Regions from separate parts of the Homo sapiens genome. Here regions 2, 3, 4 and 5 are each reported to be linked to region 1. Evidence: microRNA targets listed by miRTarBase, many of them from high-throughput screens and not tested one by one. Region 1 holds a microRNA gene; each other region holds the end of a gene's coding sequence.
The links. Region 1 holds the annotated microRNA hsa-miR-6827-3p (ACCGUCUCUUCUGUUCCCCAG, at 2,442-2,462, shown strand). A microRNA usually pairs through its seed, bases 2 to 8, with sites in the 3' UTR of a target mRNA and lowers its output. Matches are read on the target gene's strand: a 7mer-m8 pairs with bases 2 to 8, a 7mer-A1 pairs with bases 2 to 7 and ends in A, and an 8mer does both.

Region 2: the mRNA of CSE1L is a reported target of hsa-miR-6827-3p. The part of its 3' UTR that is shown has no 7-base or 8-base seed match.
Region 3: miRTarBase lists NSG1 as a target of hsa-miR-6827-3p. Seed matches in the 3' UTR shown: 7mer-m8 at 2,044-2,050.
Region 4: miRTarBase lists FKRP as a target of hsa-miR-6827-3p. Seed matches in the 3' UTR shown: 7mer-m8 at 671-677.
Region 5: the mRNA of DSC3 is a reported target of hsa-miR-6827-3p. Seed matches in the 3' UTR shown: 8mer at 3,137-3,144 and 7mer-m8 at 3,305-3,311.

The regions. Positions count from the first base shown.
Region 1 is chr3:134,365,850-134,370,265 of GRCh38, reverse strand. MIR6827 (microRNA 6827) reads left to right here and starts at 2,404; the gene lies at 2,404-2,462. It overlaps AMOTL2 (angiomotin like 2), which reads left to right. Exons shown (of 10, transcript NM_016201.4): 3 at 2,463-2,769; 4 at 3,839-3,983; 5 at 4,357-4,416.
Region 2 is chr20:49,095,689-49,100,104 of GRCh38, forward strand. It overlaps CSE1L (chromosome segregation 1 like), which reads left to right. Exons shown (of 25, transcript NM_001316.4): 25 at 661-1,261. The coding sequence ends at 750. Among named protein-coding and RNA genes, the nearest start is that of CSE1L, 52 kb to the left of the region's middle.
Region 3 is chr4:4,417,213-4,420,212 of GRCh38, reverse strand. It overlaps NSG1 (neuronal vesicle trafficking associated 1), which reads right to left. Exons shown (of 5, transcript NM_014392.5): 5 at 1,155-2,978. The coding sequence ends at 2,778. STX18 (syntaxin 18) reads left to right here. Exons shown (of 11, transcript NM_016930.4): 11 at 84-1,245. The coding sequence ends at 179. Among named protein-coding and RNA genes, the nearest start is that of NSG1, 32 kb to the right of the region's middle.
Region 4 is chr19:46,756,543-46,760,958 of GRCh38, forward strand. FKRP (fukutin related protein) reads left to right here. Exons shown (of 4, transcript NM_024301.5): 4 at 1-2,033. The coding sequence ends at 396. Among named protein-coding and RNA genes, the nearest start is that of STRN4, 12 kb to the left of the region's middle.
Region 5 is chr18:30,990,886-30,995,301 of GRCh38, reverse strand. DSC3 (desmocollin 3) reads left to right here. Exons shown (of 16, transcript NM_001941.5): 16 at 930-4,416. The coding sequence ends at 1,127. Among named protein-coding and RNA genes, the nearest start is that of DSC3, 50 kb to the left of the region's middle.

The sequences.
Region 1 (4,416 bases):
GGAGGCATTCCTAACTAGAGGCTGGAAAGGCCCAGTGGTCTGATTAGAGACCTCTCAGCATCTTACACCAGGGCAGGAGCTTACTTGTCTCTCCTCTTCATTTCCTGCCATATGCTCCCTGCGTCTGCAGCCTGCAGTGGGAAAGGATTCTGGGTCCAAGTGGGCCCTTTTCTGGTGAGGCTCAGGAGAGGCTGCTGGGCCATGGTAGGGACTTAGAGTTTGATTCTGAGTGTGCTGGGAGGCCCTCAGGGGATGTGATTTGGTTTACCTTTTCTAAATGCTCTCTCTGGCTACATGCAGAGCATGGTTTGTAAGGGGCCAGAATGGAAGCAGGAAGACCCGGGGAGGCAAGAAGTCTAGAGAGTTTGGAGAAATAAGTGTTCCTAGAAACAAGGCCCTGCCTCACGCTTCTCATCTTGCCCAGCATCTTTTCCAGAGAAGCAGACACAGCCATCACTGCTGCATCTCCCCCTATGGGAGTCCAAGAAACCCCACCAAGGGACCCCAAGGATTTCAGACTCTTCCTCTGGTGGCCCAAGGTCAAAGTCTGGTTCTCTTCATGCCTGCTGTGTTCCTTTAGTAAACACCCACTTTCCCACCGTCCGGCTTTCCTTGCTCTCGAGAAATGAGTGACATGATGGGGTTGGTATGGCGGAACCAGAGGTTGGAGCCTCATAGTTTTTCTCCAGCCTCCACCCCTCCAGACTCGCACTTTATCGCCCCTCTCAGGGCTCGGTCAGGAAGAGTTTCGGAAGCTGAGTGGTGGTTTCTTCTTTTGGACCAGCCTTATTGAACCCTGTCAGGAAAAGATAGTAATCACGGCAAGGAAGTAGACTGTTTGCAGGAGAACAAAAAGCAGGGGAGGGAGAGGACGAGGAGAAAGGAAAGCAAGTGTGAAGGGAAAGGAGTTGCTATTCTTTCTCAGAGCTAAGTCATCCCCAAAGAATGCCAGTTGTGTCTGCCTGGCCCAGTGCAGGGGGGAGCAAGTTCTTGAAGCAACCTTGAGAATGGCCATTTTAGCAGTGGAATGGAGAGTTTGAGCACTCCAGTGGGGACCCTCTTCCCAGCTCTTACTGGAAGCCCCACCTTAGGTAGTAGGAGAAATACATCTGCCCAATATCTCCTTTCAGATGATCCAGTGAAGATTATTTGTTAGGAAACGGGCTAGACTCCTAGCCTAGGGTCCTGAGAAGAGCAGGGGGGCCATAGGCTGCATGGCAGCAAGAGTCAGGGGCAGGCTGGGTGTGCATTAGTGCTGAGATGATGCACCCAGAAGGGGAATTCGGTTTTTGCGGGGCTTCTGGGACTTGGAAGATTCTTTGTGAAACTGAGGCAGTTGTGACACTGGGAATCACAAGGTCCCAGGAAGGCCCTTGGACTCCCCGTGCCTCTTGCCCTTTGCTCCTTCCCTCAACATGGAGCCCTGGGGGTGATGTTACACCAGTGCCAGAGGCCAATAGAATATTGTCCCCTGAACTCAGTGACCACAGTAGTCCAGAGGCAGCCCTTACTCCCAAGGAAACCAAGAGTTTGGGCCACATTTGTTCTCTAAACTGAGGGTAAACTGAGGCTCCTACTAGAAGAGATGGAGGATGGGCCACCATTATAGGAGCACCTGCCACCCGCCCAGCACTGGCCCAGCACTCTGCCAGGCCTTACATAGCGTCATCCTCAACAAATCCCAGCGAGGCTGGAGACCCTCATGATGCAACAGAGCAATGCCCAGTCTGTGGGGCTGAGGCACTCGCCCAAGGTTAAACAGCTGGAGCAGGGATTTGAACCCCTATTTGTCAGACTCTAGAGCTCAGACTCTTACCCTGACATTTGTCTCATTGCTCTAACCTTAACTGGAGTCTTCTAAAAATGACTCTGGGTGAGTGGGGGGTGGGGGGTGGCAGGACTTGAAATAGGAAGGAGAAAATGAGTGCTGCTTTGGCAGTCTTGAAACTGGCGACTCGTGTAATAGACACAAGGTTGCTGCTGGGGCCCAGCCACCAAAGTTGTCCTGGGGCCTGGAAGGTTATATGCTCAGTCATGATTGACATGGCCTCCAGCCCCAAAAATAACCTTCCATTGATTAGAAGTGTCAGGGTGCATTTTTTAAGATGATGTATTTAAGCATTAGTTGCTTAGGAGGCCCAGGATTGCTCAGGCTGATCCCCAAGGCCCCAGCCACTGTGAGGCGGGTATGAAACAAGCATCCTGACATTAATCCCCTCTAGCCCTGCTGTCTGACTCTTGAGAGCCTCAGGCAGAAACATTTGGAAAAGGCCTTCCCTACTGGTCCCTGCCTAACACTAGAGGGTTGAATAATTATCTGCAGTAATTTTAATAATATATTAATTATTGATAATAATTAACCATCTTCCCAGTATGCCTAGGAGTGGGGTGACCCCGGGCTGCTCTGGTGGGAGCCATGAGGGTCTGTGCTGTCTCTGAGCACCGTCTCTTCTGTTCCCCAGGATCCTGCAGGCCCAGGTGCCTCCTGTGTTCCTCCAACAGCAGCAGCAGTACCAGTACCTGCAGCAATCTCAGGAGCACCCCCCTCCCCCACATCCAGCTGCTCTCGGCCATGGCCCCCTGAGCTCCCTCAGTCCACCTGCTGTGGAGGGGCCAGTGAGTGCCCAGGCCTCCTCAGCCACCTCGGGCAGTGCCCACCTGGCCCAGATGGAGGCCGTGCTGAGGGAGAATGCCAGGCTGCAGAGAGACAATGAGCGGCTGCAGAGGGAGCTGGAGAGCTCTGCGGAGAAGGCTGGCCGCATTGAGAAGGTAGGCCCTGCTGGGGCTTCAGAAGGGCAGACCAGAAAGAGACCCCGAGGGGCTACCTGGGGAGTGGGTAGTCCAAGGAGAGGCAGAGGAGCCTGAAAACTGTTTGGCTGGATTTCTCCCTATCCCTCTGTCTTCCACCTCCCTCACTCCTCATGCACCCTCCTGAGCTGACTCCAGACAGCTGGGGAACAGCCGAGAGGCCGGCAGAGCAGGCCTGGAGCATGAACAGTTGCTGGCCAGTGGTGATTAGAAAGAGCCCATTCACCAGCTCCTTGCACACTCGCACCCTTGCCCTGCACACACCCCCTCCCATGGACACCTCCCACAGAGAGCCCTTTGTGTCCCCCACACAACAGCAAGTCTGTTCCAGGCCAGCCCTGGCCAAAAAGAAAACTTCTCCTCTTGGAAAAAAAATGGGCGACTTGTTGGAATCACAGGCCAGCTAAGAGCACGTGCGGAACCTGCCAGCAGCCAAGTGGGAGGAGCAGCCGGGGCCCAGCTGGCCCTCTGGGTGGATGGTGATGCCTGGGACACCAGGCAGAGGCAGCTCTGCCTGGTGCCCGCTTCTTTAGTGAAGGGTTACCAGTTTTCCGCTGAGGCTCAGTTTTAGCAGATGGCCTCAGGCCTCCCTTGACTGTCCTGTGGTGTCCAAGTTAGGTCAAACCACCCCATCATGGCTGGAGTCTTTCGGTGCCCACTTCTGGCCAACTGTACTCAGTTTCTTGGTGGAAGCCAGCCAAGAGTAGAATGTTTCCTTCTGGACACTGGGCACAGGGAAGCTGTGTTTAGTCACCCCGCAGGCAGCTACTTCCAAAGTACCTGGCCCTGGGTTCACTCAGCATCTGGTCCTTGGGGCAGCCGATGGGACCGTTGCTTGCTGGTCCCAGCAGTCTATTCTACTTCCGGAGGCTACAAGCTTCTGACCATCCCACCATAGTCACCTGGAGGTTTTGCTCCTGTTTGGTGGCCTCTCATCTGTCACCTTTTCTGATGGAGAGTAGTGGGTCAGCCTCGAATCACTCCCTGGGAGCTCTCGCCTTCATTCAGCTCTGCTGTCTGACTCTTGCAGCTGGAAAGCGAAATCCAGCGGCTCTCTGAGGCCCATGAGAGCCTGACCAGAGCCTCCTCCAAGCGTGAGGCCCTGGAGAAGACCATGCGGAACAAGATGGACAGTGAAATGAGGAGGCTGCAAGACTTCAACCGGGATCTTAGAGGTGAGAGCCAGTCACACAGGTGGAGGTTGGAGAACCTCTGCAGAGGACTTACTTCTTTTGTTCTAGAGAAAAATTGGGAATCTCTATTCTCTGTCAAAAGTGCAGATGAACTCAGAGAGCCAGGCTGAGACCCCTTTGGAGCTGCCCTGATAGAGAGATGCTTGTCTCTATGTACTGGGCCTAGGATCCCCTCAGGGATGATGGCTCTTGACAGAGGAGGCTCCCACCCATGGGGCCCTGAGCTGAGCTGGGGTTTCCTTATGAACCCATCCCCAATATGGAGGATACAGCCCCATCCTGATAGGACGTCAGGAAAAATCCCAAGCTGGCAGCTTCACCTGACACTAAAACATCTTTCCTTCCCTTGAAACAGAGAGATTGGAATCTGCAAATCGCCGCCTGGCAAGCAAGACACAGGAGGCCCAGGCCGGCA
Region 2 (4,416 bases), not on the chromosome of region 1:
TTGTCAGCACTTATTATAGAGTTCTTACATGTTACCTGATAAAATATATATTTTTCAAGCCAGACACAGTGGTTTATGCCTGTAGTTCTAGTGCTTTGGGAGGCCAGGGCTGCAGTGAGCTATTACAGTGCCACTGCAATCCAGCCTGGGCAACAGAGCGAGGTCCCGTTTCTTAAAAAACATATATGTGTGTGGCGTGTGTATATATATGTATATATATTTTTTCATTGTATTATTACGGAGACTTTCAAACATATATAGAAAGAGCATAATGAAGCCTGCATGTGCCCAGCTTCAATAATTACCAATATCTTGCCAGTTTTGTTTCGTTTCTCCTTTTATTCTCTGTATTGAGCAAGTCTTAGACATCATACGTTTCACGCGTAAGTACCTTATTCTACATCATTAACCAGTAAGGACTTTTTAATTAACCACAATACCACTATCACACCTAATAATAGTAATTCCTTATGGATCTTTTCTTTAGACCTATTTTTGAAGGCATAAAAGCAGTTGAGTTTCTGGAGAATTTTTGGATGGTGATTAATGACTTGACTGGCTGCTCTTCCCAGAGCTGTGGCAGCTCTCCCGTAGAAGATGGGGTTTGTATTGGCGCACCAAGATCTCCAACAGCCAGTGTGTGTTTCCCATCTCTTGTAGGTTCCATCAATGGTGAGCACCAGCCTGAATGCAGAAGCGCTCCAGTATCTCCAAGGGTACCTTCAGGCAGCCAGTGTGACACTGCTTTAAACTGCATTTTTCTAATGGGCTAAACCCAGATGGTTTCCTAGGAAATCACAGGCTTCTGAGCACAGCTGCATTAAAACAAAGGAAGTTCTCCTTTTGAACTTGTCACGAATTCCATCTTGTAAAGGATATTAAATGTTGCTTTAACCTGAACCTTGAGCAAATTAGTTGGTTTGTGTGATCATACAGTTATGTGGGTGGCTTCTAGTTTGCAACTTCAAGGGACAAGTATTAATAGTTCAGTGTATGGCGTTGGTTTGTGTTGAGCGTTTGCACGGTTTGGATAATCTTAAATTTTGACGGACACTGTGGAGACTTTCTGTTACTAAATCCTTTTGTTTTGAAGCTGTTGCTATTTGTATTTCTCTTGTCCTTTATATTTTTTGTCTGTTTATTTACGCTTTTATTGGAAATGTGAATAAGTAAAGAATTACTTGTGTTACTTGCCAAGCAGTGCACATTTCATAGTTTCAAATCTGTAATCAGCAATAAAAATCCTAAAATATGTACCTAAGAACATCTTAAGGGCAGGTTTTCAGTGCTCTCTCATGCTTTTATAAAAATGAAGAATTTCTTTAAATTTCTTCCTTTTCCTTTCCTGGACTCTGTAAAATCCTAATTTCTAAATCATGTAAACTCAGATTATTTAGTCTTTTTTTTTATATGGGGGAAGGGGACATTAATATAGATTTGGGGCTTATTTACTAGAATTTTCTGTAGCAGTTCCTAGGTGGCAGTGTGAGTTTTGGGTAGGTGGCTCCTCTGGGAGAAATGCTCTGCCTCGCTTAATGGGATGGCGGTCGAGAGTACTTGAGACTGTGGATGTTTTGATCTCTTTCATCTCTGCTGTTCCCTGGAGAGTGGAGGTTACTTGGAACTTTTCAAACCCTGACACCTTAGAACCGTGAAGTCCAGTCCAGTGGTGGATCCGGCCGGATGCCTGGTGAGCTTGGTTGCACTGGCTCCCTCCCTTGGCCTGGCCCATGGAATTGTACAGCATTCGTTTCTGAGGAATGAAGAATCAGAATATCTAAATTTTGTGAGGCACAGTTTATGCTGGAATTGTTCATTGTCCATTCAGTGTAGTTAAACTGGAACTTTTGTCTTCCCAGCTCAAGTGATTTGTCACAGGAGTTATCGATATCCCTTTTTTTTTTCTTTTTTACCCCCAAGATAAGAGTCTTGTTCTGTTGACCAGGCTGGAGTGCAGTGGCACAATCTCAGTTCACTGCAACCTCCACTTCCTGGGTTTGAGCAATTCTCCTGCCTCAGCCTCTCGAGTAGCTGGGATTACAGGCGTCCGCCACCACGCCCAGCTAATTTTTGTATTTTTATTAGAGATGGGGTTTCACCATATTTGTCAGGCTGGTCTCGAACTCCTGACCTCATGATCTGCCTGCCTCGGCCTCCCAAAGTGCTGGGATTACACGCGTGAGCCACTGTGCCTGGTGATAACTTTTTTAATCTTAGGCACTTGACTCGAATGGTTTTTCTTATTTTGAATTTTTTTTTTTTTTTTTTTTTTTTTTTTTGAGACGGAGTCTCACTCTTGCCCAGGCTGGAGTGCAGTGGCACAATCTCAGCTGACTGCAACCTCCGCCTCCCAGGTTCAAGCGATTCTCCTGCCTCAGCCTCCTGAGTAGCTGGGATACAGGCATGCATCACCATGCCTGGCTATTTTTTGTATTTTTAGTAGAGACAGGGTTTCACCATGTTGGCCAGGCTGGTTTCAAACTCCTGACCTTGTGATCCGCCTGCCTCGGCTTACCAAAGTGCTGGGATTAGAGGCTTGAGCCACTGTGCCCAGCCACTTGTTTCTGTAATGTTGCATGAGAAATTTCAAGTTCTCTTAAGTCTATTTGTACCATCTAGTCATTTAAGGGCTTTTTGTTGTTGTTGTTGTTGTTGTTGTTGTTGTTGTTGTTGTTGGTTTTGACACAGTAATGGGAATACTACATTTTACGTTATTACTTTGGCTTAAGTGGTCGTTGGTAGAAAGATACTGAAATATTACTGAAGCCATTTTTAAGCCACAATTTATTTGGAAAGTCTGGGACAACAGGGAATTGCTAGTGATGGTTTCTGTATGTTTTTCACTCACATGAGCTCCTTAAGTATTTATTTGGCTTTGCTCTTCCTGAAGCTGCTTGTGAACAGTCAGTCAGATACCGTTCTGGAGGCTGCTTGATTCAACATCTTAAACTCAGATCGAGTTCGAAACGTTTTCCTTCTTCAGTTCAAAAGGCTGAGTAGTAGATGGTGTGCCTTTTAAAATAGTTACTGAACAGCAAGACTAGTACATTTACTTACTTTAGCACAGTTCATTAATTATCAAATAATTTTTTTAAATGCCTTCTATTGAAGTTGCTTATTCAATCGTCCAAGACAGTTTTTATATCTGGCTTTAAAGATTTTAGGACATGGTGGACAGAAACTGCTGGAGTGGTTTTTTTCTTTTTTCTTCACAAGCCTTACTGACTGTAGCTCAGTGGTGATGCACACTGTGGGTATGAAGATCAGGGTTTGAGTTACAGCACTGCTACTGACTATGACCTTGAGCAAATGAGTTGACCTCTATGCCTTTTTTTTCTCTTCTGAAAAATGAGCATATTATTTACCTTCAAGGTGGTTGTAAGAATAAAATGAGATGATGCATGTAGAGTACTCAAGCAGAGAACCTGTGCAGAGTAAGCACACATCAGGAAAAGCTGCTGGGGGAGCAGAGGGCTTGGGTGGGAGGAAGCGTTTGTTACTGAGCACACTTACCAATGTGCTGCATACCTGGAAGGCGGGAAGGCTTTGTGGAGAAGAGTCCTGGCATGGGCGGCCCCACCTGTACCCCAGGGTGTTTTTACAGAAGGGAAGTATTGCCAGGTTTCTCATCAGAGCTTCCTGCTAGGTGCATTCATTCTCCATGGTATTCAATCATGTCTTTTAACAAGCTGATTTTTAAATAATTGAGTTTTTAAATTATTTTTATGTATTTATTTTTTTGAGATGGAGTCTTGCTCAGCCCAGGCTGAAGTGCAGAGGCGTGATCTCGGCTCACTGCAACCTCCACCTCCTGGTTTCAAGTGATTCCCCAGCCTCAGCCTCCCGAGTAGCTGGAATTACAGGCACGCGCCACCACGCCCAGCTAACTTTTGTATTTTTAGTAGAGACAGGGTTTCACCATGTTTTGTCAGGCTGGTCTCAAACTCCTGACCTCAAGTGATCCACCTGCCTCGGCCTCCCAAAGTGCTGGGAGTACAGGTGTGAGCCACCACATCTGGCCACCGACTTTTTATTTTAAATGTATTTTCTTTGTGGGAAACTTGGAAAATAAAGAAAAAATATTTAAAAATTAAAAATAATTCATATTCCTACCTACATTAAGCATTTTGGTTCATTTGAGATCATTCTGTATATAGTTTTGTAATTTTTTTAAACCATATTTACTTGGTAAACATTCAGTGGATATATGTGATTTATCATTAGGATATATCATTACCAGATTATGTAATTGTAGTCATTGCTGGATGTCTTGGAGGTTTTCTGATTTTGTAGACAACTCTTGAGATGAACATCTTTATGCATCAATTTTTAGTTCCTGAAGGTGGAATTAGAGCCAATTTTCTTGTGCAAAGTTCATGTCAGTTTCTTTAACACACCTTTACCTACACTGGGCAT
Region 3 (3,000 bases), not on the chromosome of region 1:
ACGTGGGAAGAGGGGGGCATTTCAGGGCTGCTCAAACCAAAATCCTGTGTGATAAAAACACCTGTGCTCCCGTCCCTGCCCAGGCCATTAAAAACAACGCTGGCTTCCGCGTGTGGATCCTCTTCTTCCTCGTGATGTGCTCCTTCTCCTTGCTCTTCCTCGACTGGTACGACAGCTAGCCAGGGCCACGGGGGCCCAGCACGAGAGTCCTCATGGGCACTCACAGACTGCGTGCTTTCATGTACTTCCAGTGCTGGAGCATGGTATGACCAGATTTTATCACAGTGCCATTTGAAGGGAAAGGAGTTCAGACAGACAGACGTATTCCCCAAAAAGGGATACCCCAGGCCGATGGTGTTCAGCCATTTAGCAGCTGAAAAAGGAAACAGTGCACACCAATGGGAGGCAGCCTGCGTAGCCCTCATCAGGCAAGACAGACTGAATGCAGGAGTGGGTGATTAGCTGCTCCTTGAACTTGAGGCTGCCTTGGCAGCAGGGGCACAGCAGGCCTCAAGAGCCCCTAATTGTCTCAGGGTTCAAAGGAAGACACTGACCTTTCCCATCCCGGTAGCTTCAGGGAAGATCATAGTTAATAACGTCTCTCAACAAATGATTACTTCTTTGTTTCCTTGTGGCTTCTTGTCTGTCTGAGTCAACGAATACACAGACTTACTGGATTATAGAAGAGAAAATTCACATCTGCCTTGTTAATCTAATAAATATAATTACAGCCCCTTAATGTGTTGTCAATGAGTCTAAGTTGACAAATTCAGTGGCAGCCCAGCCACCTCCTATCAATCAATCAGGGAAGAAATGCAGGGGAGACTGGGGCCCTCAGTGAGGGGCTGCCTGGCATTACTCCTCCAAAGACTGCTGCCCCCAGAACAGGCAGGGGGTGTGGGAGGGCCAGTTTCCCGCCACTGGGTCCAAGGAGCCTTTGTTCAAAGGAAGAAGTGGGCCACGGAAGAACGGGCCTGCTTCTCTCGTGCCTGTGCTTCTGACCTCCAGGAACTGTAAACAGGAACACCTATGTGTAACTGAAGGCATGAGACATCTGTACAGGAAGCATCCCAGCGCCCACATGGGCATGAGACAGTCTGCACTGCGCCTGGTGAAATGCGTGTGTGTACAGACAGTCCACTGGGCAGCACAGGTATCCTCATGTTCTTTATTTGCACAGAGTGAAATGTCAGAAGTTACATGTAAATGAATTCACAGTCAATAAAGTCCACGTCTACCTGGAAATACAGGCTCGGCCTCTGCACTGTGCGCACACGGGCTTCACTTGTGTCTATTCAGATGCGCAGGGAAGCTTTGGCACTGATTTATTGCTCTTGAGTCATTTTCCACAGCTTAACACCACCCTTCTCAGCACACGCCTCTGATGCACACCGCTGCGCCAAGGTCACGGTCTGTGTCTCCAGACACCCTTGATGAGAAAATACATTTTCTGTCTTAGAAGCACATTTCAGGAAACAAGAGTGGCGCTGACCACGGTCACCATGCCTGTTCACAACACATCTCACACTATTTGTCGTTTATTTCTGATCTAAAAAACTGAAACTTTTGACACGTACACCAGAAACAACACATTCAATAACATAGAAGAAATGTCTGCGAATGTCTTTTCTATTTGTTTTACACACTTAGTTCATCTAACTGGCAGTTTTGTAAACATAAACTTTAATATCAAGATTCAAACTGGAACAATTTTCTTACAAAGATTGTGAGTTGAAATTTGTCATTTTGTTTGCACGGTGCCACACCAGTCCCCCACCCCCACCCCACAGCCTTTCCTGCCTGTTTCCCACATCAAGGGATATCAGTTTCATAGAATAAAAATTAAAGTAGCTCAAGCTTACCAGAAATTACATTTCCACTTTTCCCACCCAGCTCATTTCTTTAAAAACTAATGGGGCTATTGGTGCAAATTTATTCATAATAGAAGTGAACCAGAGGGCCAGTGGGGGCTCTTTCCTATCAGCACATCACAGAGCAGACAGACTACCTGCAGGGAGAGTTCTGCACCTCACGGGCCCAGGGCCGTCTCTTCCCAGCCCTCTCCCTCACATGCTCTGCCAGTCTACACACACTGGAGCAAACCCCAGCTGTCTCCACCCAGATGGGTGGTGCCCCTCCCTCCTTACCAAGATGCCAGAGTCAGAGGGGAGGGAGTAGTCAATCCACACCGAGCCTGCCACATTGCAGGGCCGTCCCACCCCGACTCAGGAGTCAGCACAGGGAGGGGTGGGGGGGTCTTTTTCCTCGTTCTCTATGCCACTTACTTACTACAGTGCACCTTGGCAGCAGTCAGCACTGTTACCCGCTGATGGCCGAGGAAGAAATGCGAAGTAGGCTTGCTCTTAGCACAGCGAGAGATCACTCTAGATATGGCTATGGAGGAAGGTTTGCAGACAGCAGGGTCGGTTCAGAAAATCAATTCCACAAAATGCATTTATCTGAGATCCAAACCCTTCGCATATCCAGTGTAAATTTATTTTTTTACAGCATCCAATAAATCCCAGTAAAGGAGCTAAATGAAGATCTTAACATGAAAAGTGGTGTCAGAGCTCTTTAGGCAATGCTGAAATGCACTTGATTTTATGCCCGTGGGTGGTCGGCAGCAAGTTTTATTTGCAAAGCAGCATTAGCAAACAGAAGCAATTGCACCGTAAATGAGTAACCTCTAAAGTATCAGTAATTATATTTAATGAAATGTCCCTCAAAGTCCCTTTGTTATTTGCAAGTGACACATTGTAAGGAACTTGCCCATCCCGCTAAGCTGACTTCTCAGCCGCTTCAGTCTCCTGCTCGGACAGCTTCTCTTCTGACAGAACTGACATCCAGGGCGATACGGAGCGCGTGATGCTCTGCTTGGCCAGGTTGTAGTGGTTTATGACTGTGTAAAATTTCTCCCGGGCACTGGAGTCTTGCTCCGCGTAGTAGCTCTCCAAGCCTTCTGGGATGCACTGGGTGTTCTGAAAGACAAGAGGCCACTGA
Region 4 (4,416 bases), not on the chromosome of region 1:
CTGGGCATCTACTTGGAGGACGTGGGCAACTGCGAGCAGCTGCGGGGGGCAGAGGCCGGCTCGGTGGTGGATGAGCGCGGCTTCGTATGGGAGAAGGCGGTCGAGGGCGACTTTTTCCGCGTGCAGTACAGCGAAAGCAACCACTTGCACGTGGACCTGTGGCCCTTCTACCCCCGCAATGGCGTCATGACCAAGGACACGTGGCTGGACCACCGGCAGGATGTGGAGTTTCCCGAGCACTTCCTGCAGCCGCTGGTGCCCCTGCCCTTTGCCGGCTTCGTGGCGCAGGCGCCTAACAACTACCGCCGCTTCCTGGAGCTCAAGTTCGGGCCCGGGGTCATCGAGAACCCCCAGTACCCCAACCCGGCACTGCTGAGTCTGACGGGAAGCGGCTGAAGCCCTGATAACCTCGCCTTTGTTTTTCGGGGGTCTGTCTGGATGTGGAGAAGCTCTGTGTGAGCGGTGAGGGGTGGAGGGATGTCGCGGAGAGGGGAAGGGGGAAACTGACCAAGAAAGAAATTCTAAGGAGAGCATGAGAGAAGGCTGGCATTGGCAGGAGGAGAGCACCAGGACGAGGATGGGAAGCGACCTCCAGATTTATCAAATGGTCATGCCCACTGGGAGCCGTGGATATGCGTGGGGACATCCTGGGTCATCTCAGTCATGGAGGGAGACGGGGATGTCACGCCGTCCCGCAGGGCCCAGCACAGCCCCAGACCCGAAAAAAGTGTTCTGCCCAAGATTCCGAGAGCCCTGCGCTCTAGGGCAGGGGCAGAGTTTTGGAAACAGTGCAGGCTCTGGAGCCAGACTGGCGAGATTCAAATCCTGGCTCTATCGCTTCGGAGCCAGGTGGGCCTGGGGGGGCGTCGCAGTCTCTCTGTGCCTCAGTTGCTTCCAGGATGCGGGACCCTTGGCTGCAGGGGTTGCTTCCGCCACTAGAGGGCGCGCCGGTCCCGCTCCTGGTGGCCCACTGTGGCTGCCCGGGCGACAGTACGCCCAGGGCCTGTGTTCCATAGCCATCTACTCTCTTGAGCCTTTGGACTTCTCTCCAAGCCCCTGTGGGAGGCGGACAGCAGTGACCACCTCCCCTTCTTTTGGACTGCGACCTCCTTCCCTCCTGGGAGAGCCCTGTGACCTGCATGCTACTCTTAACTGTTCTATTCAAGACTGAATAGAAGTATTTCAGTCTTGCAGAGGAGGAAATGCTCAGAGCTCCGAGGTGCGGCTGTGGTCGAGAACCGGGTGCTGGGCCGGGCGCGGGGGCTCACGCCTGTAATCCCAGCACTTTGGGAGGCCGAGGTGGGAGGATCGCTTGAGCCCAGGAGTCTGAGACCAGCCTCGGCAACATGCCAAGACCCCGTCTCTATTTTTAAAAAAGAAAAAGAACCGACTTCTGAATCGCAGCTCCACTCATGACTAATACCTCATTATTTCAGCTGTCTGCACCTAATTCCCCACTTGCACGGCAGTGTAGACAATAACCATAGCTCACACTCACTGAGCACCTACTGGGTACCAGGCACCATTCTCAGTGTTTCACCTGGATCAACTAATGCGTCCCTCACCTCAGCCCTCTGAAGTGACAGCTGCTATTATTTTCATTACACAGATGAAAAAGCTGAGGCCAGAATCGTGAAGTCACTTGCTCAAGGTCAGGCAGCTTAGGAAGGGGCAGATCGGGGGCTTGAACCCAGGTGGTCAGGCTCTGGAGCCCACAATTGTCTTACCCACTATGCCCCTCTCTAGTCATGGTCCCCAAGAGGGGCTTGGAGACCCACTTAGCAGGTGAAAGCAATGGCAGCCTTCCTTATTTGATTATGCACCTAAGAATAAATGGTATTTGGGCATGTATTCCCAATATGTGTATATTTATTTATAAATATATACAGATACTATTATCTGTATGTTAGTAATAAAGCTTAAATTATTCCATTTTAAAATTATGAATATGAATAGGGTTTTTTTTATGTTTCTTGCCTCATCCCAATGACTTTTGCACACCCAGGTGTGAGCACCCAGCATTCAAGACCACGGGTTAAAAAAAAAAAAAAAAAGCTGGCCGGGCGTGGTGGCTCACGCCTGTGATCCCAACACTTTTGGGAGGCTGAGACAGGAGGAACACTTGAGCTCGGGAGTTCGAGACCAGCCTGAGCAATAGAGCAAGACTCTTGTCAATTAAAAATAATAAATAAAGCCAGGCATGGTGGCTCACGCCTATAATCCCAACACTTTGGGAGCCCAAGGCGGACGGATCACAAGGTCAAGAGATCGAGACCATCCTGGCTAACACAGTGAAACTCCGTCTCTACTAAAAATACAAAAAATTAGCTGGACATGGTGGCGGGCACCTGTAGTCCCAGCTACTCAGGAGGCTGAGGCAGGAGAATGGCATGAACCCGGGAGGCGGAGCTTGCAGTGAGCCAAGATTGTGCCACCGCCCTCCAGCCTGAGCAACAGAGCAAGACTCCATCTCAAAAAAATAAAATAATAAATAAGAGGCAAAATGTTAAAAATAAGCAAGGACTGGGCACAGTGGCTCATGCCTGTAATCCCGGTACTTTCGGAAGCCAAAATTGGAGGATCCTTTAAGGCCAAGAGTTCAAGATCAGCCTGGGCAACATAGCGAGATCCCCTGTCTCTACAAAATAATAAAAAAATAGCCACTGTTTTAGTCCCTTCTCATGCTACTAATAAAGACCTACCTGAGACTGGGTAATTTATAAAGGAGGAAAGGTTTAATCGACCCACAGTTCAGCACGGCTGGGGAGGCCTCATGAAACTTACAATCATGGCAGAAGGGGAAGCAAACACATCTTGTGATGGCAGGAAGAAGAAGTTCCAAGCAAAAGGGGAAAGTTCCTTATAAAACCATTAGATCTCATGAGAACTCACTATCACGAGAATAGCATGGGGGTAACTGCCCCCATGATTCAATTACCTCGCACCCAGTCCCTCCCACGACACATGGGGATTATCAGAACTACAATTCGAGATGAGATTTGGGTGGAAACACAGCCAAACCATATCAGCCAGGCATAATGGCATGCACCTGTAGTCCTAGCTACTGGGGAGGCTGAGGCAGGAGGATTGCTTAAGCCTAGGAGATCAAGACTGCAGTGAGCTCTGATTGCACCTCTGCACTCCAGCCTCGGCAACAGAGCATTATCCCATCCCCCCACAAAAAAAAAGAAAAAAAGAAAAGACATGGGCTTGAGGTTGGAGAGGACCGGGTTTCCCAGTGCTGCCACCTTCTCCCAGGGCCTCTATTGACTCTGTCTCTGCGCCCCCACCTTGCATTTGGGAAGTGGAAGCAATGAGATCGCTCCTCCCACAGGAGTGTGTTCGCGGTAAAGGGGCCCAGAGTCTGGCTGGGTTTGAATCCTGGCTTGGCCACTTGGTTTCTTTGTACTCTCAGACAAGTCGCTGCCTCTCTGAACCTGTAAACTGGGGAGATTGGTAATATTTCACAATTGTACATTCCTGGGAGGAGGAGGCTTCATAGACCAGCAAGAGAAGATTACTGTTTGGCCGAGTCTCCTGAGGCTCAGACATCCAAAGCCTGACTTCTTGTAACCCAACCCCTGCTTTTAACCACTGAACCCAAAAATGGTTCACAAAGAGACTTGGCAGGTCCACAGGGAGGATTCTGGAATGCATGGGGATGATTTGCATTATCATCATGACTGGAAGCTGCTCTTGGCTCTTGGCAGACGTGGTCCAGGGATGCAGATGTCTTGTAATATTCAGGAATCTCCACACAGTACAGCATCATCCCTTGTCTCATGCAGCTTCCAGATGTCTCATTGGACATTCACGAAGGAAGGGTAATATTCAAAATGTTTTGCCACTGGTACTGTAATATAAATTAGTATATGTCAATGTATGCATCAAATTTTTAAAATATTTTAGGCCAGGCATAGTGTAATCCCAGCACCTTGGGAGGCCAAGACAGGAGGATGGCTTGAAGCCAGGAATTCGAGACCAGCCTGGGCAACATAGAGAGACCCTCATCTCTACAAAACATTTCAAAAATTGAGCAGGGCGTGGTGGTTTACACCATTAATCCCAGCACTTTGGAAGGCCGAGGCAGGTGAATTGCTTGAGCCCAGGAGTTCAAGACCAGACTAGGGGCCAGGCGGGGTGGCTCATGCCTGTAATCCCACCACTTTGGGAGGCTGAGGCGGGCAGATCACTTGAAGCCAGGAGTTCAAGACCAGCCTGGCCAACAAGGCAAAACCATGTCTCTACTAAAAATACAGCAATTAGCTGGGCGTGGTGGTGCACCCCTGCAGTCCCAGCTACTCAGGATGCTGAGGTGGGAGGATCACCTGAGCCCAGGAGGTCAAGGCTACAGTGAGCCATGATCATGTCACTGCATTCCAGCTTGGGCAACAGAGTGAGACCCTGTCTCAAAAA
Region 5 (4,416 bases), not on the chromosome of region 1:
AAGACATAGTCTTAGGAGGGTTCCTCAGTTGCACACCAGGTAATGGGAGGTAAGGCTAACAATGTCATGAAGAAAGAACGTAAGCCATGCCAATGAACTCCACATAGGCAAGGAGTGGGCACACAGGTGAGGAAAGGGAGGAGACATGGCAGTTGACGAGTTGGCAGACAGGCCAGTGGCAGAGAGGGTAGATGTGGCTGAATGCATGGCGTCTTCATTATAAAAGCCCAGTTTTTGCAATATGGGTCATGTTCATTCTTTTTAATTTCATTGAACTTTTCGATGCATGTATATATTTTGCCATGTTTGAGTATCTTGGAAACTTGCTTCTGAAGTTAATGTGGTAAATCCTACCTAGTTTATAACTGCATATAATAGTGATTCAAGTTAACATGTATTGTACCTTTAATATGTGCTGGGCATAATAAGTGTATTATGCGTCATTATTTTGTCATTAATTTCTAAAATAATCTTGTTAGGTGGTCACTGAGACTAAAGGATATTTGGTCACTTGCCCAAAGTCATATAGCTAGTTGGTAAAGCCAGAGCTTTGACTCACAACCAAGGCTGTTTGACATCCTATCTCAAACTCCTAACCAGTATGACTATTGTCTCTATTTTTTAGACTAGACTGACCTCTGTGTATAAAATTTAGGGATAAGCATTTAATGACAACTTGAATGTACTTAAATATAAAACTTGTATACATAATTTTTTATTTATATGGAGCACTAGAAATGTAAACTATACTGACTTTATGGTATGGTTGTGATATAGACCAATCATTTGCATTTTCTGTGTGTAGGAATCCATTAGAGGACACACTGGTTAAAAATTAAACATAAAAGGTAAATAAAAATAAATTTTATGTTCATATATTTAAGTTGTTTAAAACTATAATGCAATTCATTTTTTAAAAAATTTTACAGAAATTGCATCGATGTAATCAGAATGAAGACCGCATGCCATCCCAAGATTATGTCCTCACTTATAACTATGAGGGAAGAGGATCTCCAGCTGGTTCTGTGGGCTGCTGCAGTGAAAAGCAGGAAGAAGATGGCCTTGACTTTTTAAATAATTTGGAACCCAAATTTATTACATTAGCAGAAGCATGCACAAAGAGATAATGTCACAGTGCTACAATTAGGTCTTTGTCAGACATTCTGGAGGTTTCCAAAAATAATATTGTAAAGTTCAATTTCAACATGTATGTATATGATGATTTTTTTCTCAATTTTGAATTATGCTACTCACCAATTTATATTTTTAAAGCAAGTTGTTGCTTATCTTTTCCAAAAAGTGAAAAATGTTAAAACAGACAACTGGTAAATCTCAAACTCCAGCACTGGAATTAAGGTCTCTAAAGCATCTGCTCTTTTTTTTTTTTACGGATATTTTAGTAATAAATATGCTGGATAAATATTAGTCCAACAATAGCTAAGTTATGCTAATATCACATTATTATGTATTCACTTTAAGTGATAGTTTAAAAAATAAACAAGAAATATTGAGTATCACTATGTGAAGAAAGTTTTGGAAAAGAAACAATGAAGACTGAATTAAATTAAAAATGTTGCAGCTCATAAAGAATTGGGACTCACCCCTACTGCACTACCAAATTCATTTGACTTTGGAGGCAAAATGTGTTGAAGTGCCCTATGAAGTAGCAATTTTCTATAGGAATATAGTTGGAAATAAATGTGTGTGTGTATATTATTATTAATCAATGCAATATTTAAAATGAAATGAGAACAAAGAGGAAAATGGTAAAAACTTGAAATGAGGCTGGGGTATAGTTTGTCCTACAATAGAAAAAAGAGAGAGCTTCCTAGGCCTGGGCTCTTAAATGCTGCATTATAACTGAGTCTATGAGGAAATAGTTCCTGTCCAATTTGTGTAATTTGTTTAAAATTGTAAATAAATTAAACTTTTCTGGTTTCTGTGGGAAGGAAATAGGGAATCCAATGGAACAGTAGCTTTGCTTTGCAGTCTGTTTCAAGATTTCTGCATCCACAAGTTAGTAGCAAACTGGGGAATACTCGCTGCAGCTGGGGTTCCCTGCTTTTTGGTAGCAAGGGTCCAGAGATGAGGTGTTTTTTTCGGGGAGCTAATAACAAAAACATTTTAAAACTTACCTTTACTGAAGTTAAATCCTCTATTGCTGTTTCTATTCTCTCTTATAGTGACCAACATCTTTTTAATTTAGATCCAAATAACCATGTCCTCCTAGAGTTTAGAGGCTAGAGGGAGCTGAGGGGAGGATCTTACTGAAAGCACCCTGGGGAGATTGATTGTCCTTAAACCTAAGCCCCACAAACTTGACACCTGATCAGGTCTGGGAGCTACAAAATTTCATTTTTCTCCTCACTGCCCTTCTTCTGAGTGGCATTGGCCTGAATCAAGGAAAGCCAGGCCTTGTGGGCCCCCTTCTTTCGGCTTTCTGCTAAAGCAACACCTCCAGCAGAGATTCCCTTAAGTGACTCCAGGTTTTCCACCATCCTTCAGCGTGAATTAATTTTTAATCAGTTTGCTTTCTCCAGAGAAATTTTAAAATAATAGAAGAAATAGAAATTTTGAATGTATAAAAGAAAAAGATCAAGTTGTCATTTTAGAACAGAGGGAACTTTGGGAGAAAGCAGCCCAAGTAGGTTATTTGTACAGTCAGAGGGCAACAGGAAGATGCAGGCCTTCAAGGGCAAGGAGAGGCCACAAGGAATATGGGTGGGAGTAAAAGCAACATCGTCTGCTTCATACTTTTTCCTAGGCTTGGCACTGCCTTTTCCTTTCTCAGGCCAATGGCAACTGCCATTTGAGTCCGGTGAGGGATCAGCCAACCTCTTCTCTATGGCTCACCTTATTTGGAGTGAGAAATCAAGGAGACAGAGCTGACTGCATGATGAGTCTGAAGGCATTTGCAGGATGAGCCTGAACTGGTTGTGCAGAACAAACAAGGCATTCATGGGAATTGTTGTATTCCTTCTGCAGCCCTCCTTCTGGGCACTAAGAAGGTCTATGAATTAAATGCCTATCTAAAATTCTGATTTATTCCTACATTTTCTGTTTTCTAATTTGACCCTAAAATCTATGTGTTTTAGACTTAGACTTTTTATTGCCCCCCCCCCCCCCTTTTTTTTTTGAGACGGAGTCTCGCTCTGACGCACAGGCTGGAGTGCAGTGGCTCCGATCTCTGCTCACTGAAAGCTCCGCCTCCCGGGTTCACGCCATTCTCCTGCCTCAGCCTCCTGAGTAGCTGGGACTACAGGCGCCCACCACCACGCCCGGCTAATTTTTTGTATTTTTAATAGAGACGGGGTTTCACTGTGTTAGCCAGGATGGTCTCGATCTCCTGACCTCGTGATCCGCCTGCCTCGGCCTCCCAAAGTGCTGGGATTACAGGCATGACCCACCGCTCCCGGCCTTGTTTTCCGTTTAAAGTCGTCTTCTTTTAATGTAATCATTTTGAACATGTGTGAAAGTTGATCATACGAATTGGATCAATCTTGAAATACTCAACCAAAAGACAGTCGAGAAGCCAGGGGGAGAAAGAACTCAGGGCACAAAATATTGGTCTGAGAATGGAATTCTCTGTAAGCCTAGTTGCTGAAATTTCCTGCTGTATCCAGAAGCCAGTTTTATCTAACGGCTACTGAAACACCCACTGTGTTTTGCTCACTCCCTCACTCACCGATCAAAACCTGCTACCTCCCCAAGACTTTACTAGTGCCGATAAACTTTCTCAAAGAGCAACCAGTATCACTTCCCTGTTTATAAAACCTCTAACCATCTCTTTGTTCTTTGAACATGCTGAAAACCACCTGGTCTGCATGTATGCCCGAATTTGTAATTCTTTTCTCTCAAATGAAAATTTAATTTTAGGGATTCATTTCTATATTTTCACATATGTAGTATTATTATTTCCTTATATGTGTAAGGTGAAATTTATGGTATTTGAGTGTGCAAGAAAATATATTTTTAAAGCTTTCATTTTTCCCCCAGTGAATGATTTAGAATTTTTTATGTAAATATACAGAATGTTTTTTCTTACTTTTATAAGGAAGCAGCTGTCTAAAATGCAGTGGGGTTTGTTTTGCAATGTTTTAAACAGAGTTTTAGTATTGCTATTAAAAGAAGTTACTTTGCTTTTAAAGAAACTTGGCTGCTTAAAATAAGCAAAAATTGGATGCGTAAAGTAATATTTACAGATGTGGGGAGATGTAATAAAACAATATTAACTTGGTTTCTTGTTTTTGCTGTATTTAGAGATTAAATAATTCTAAGATGATCACTTTGCAAAATTATGCTTATGGCTGGCATGGAAATAGAAATAATTATGTCTTTGTTGTATTAATGGGGAATATTTTGGACAATGTTTCATTATCAAATTGTCGACATCATTAATATATATTGTAATGTTGG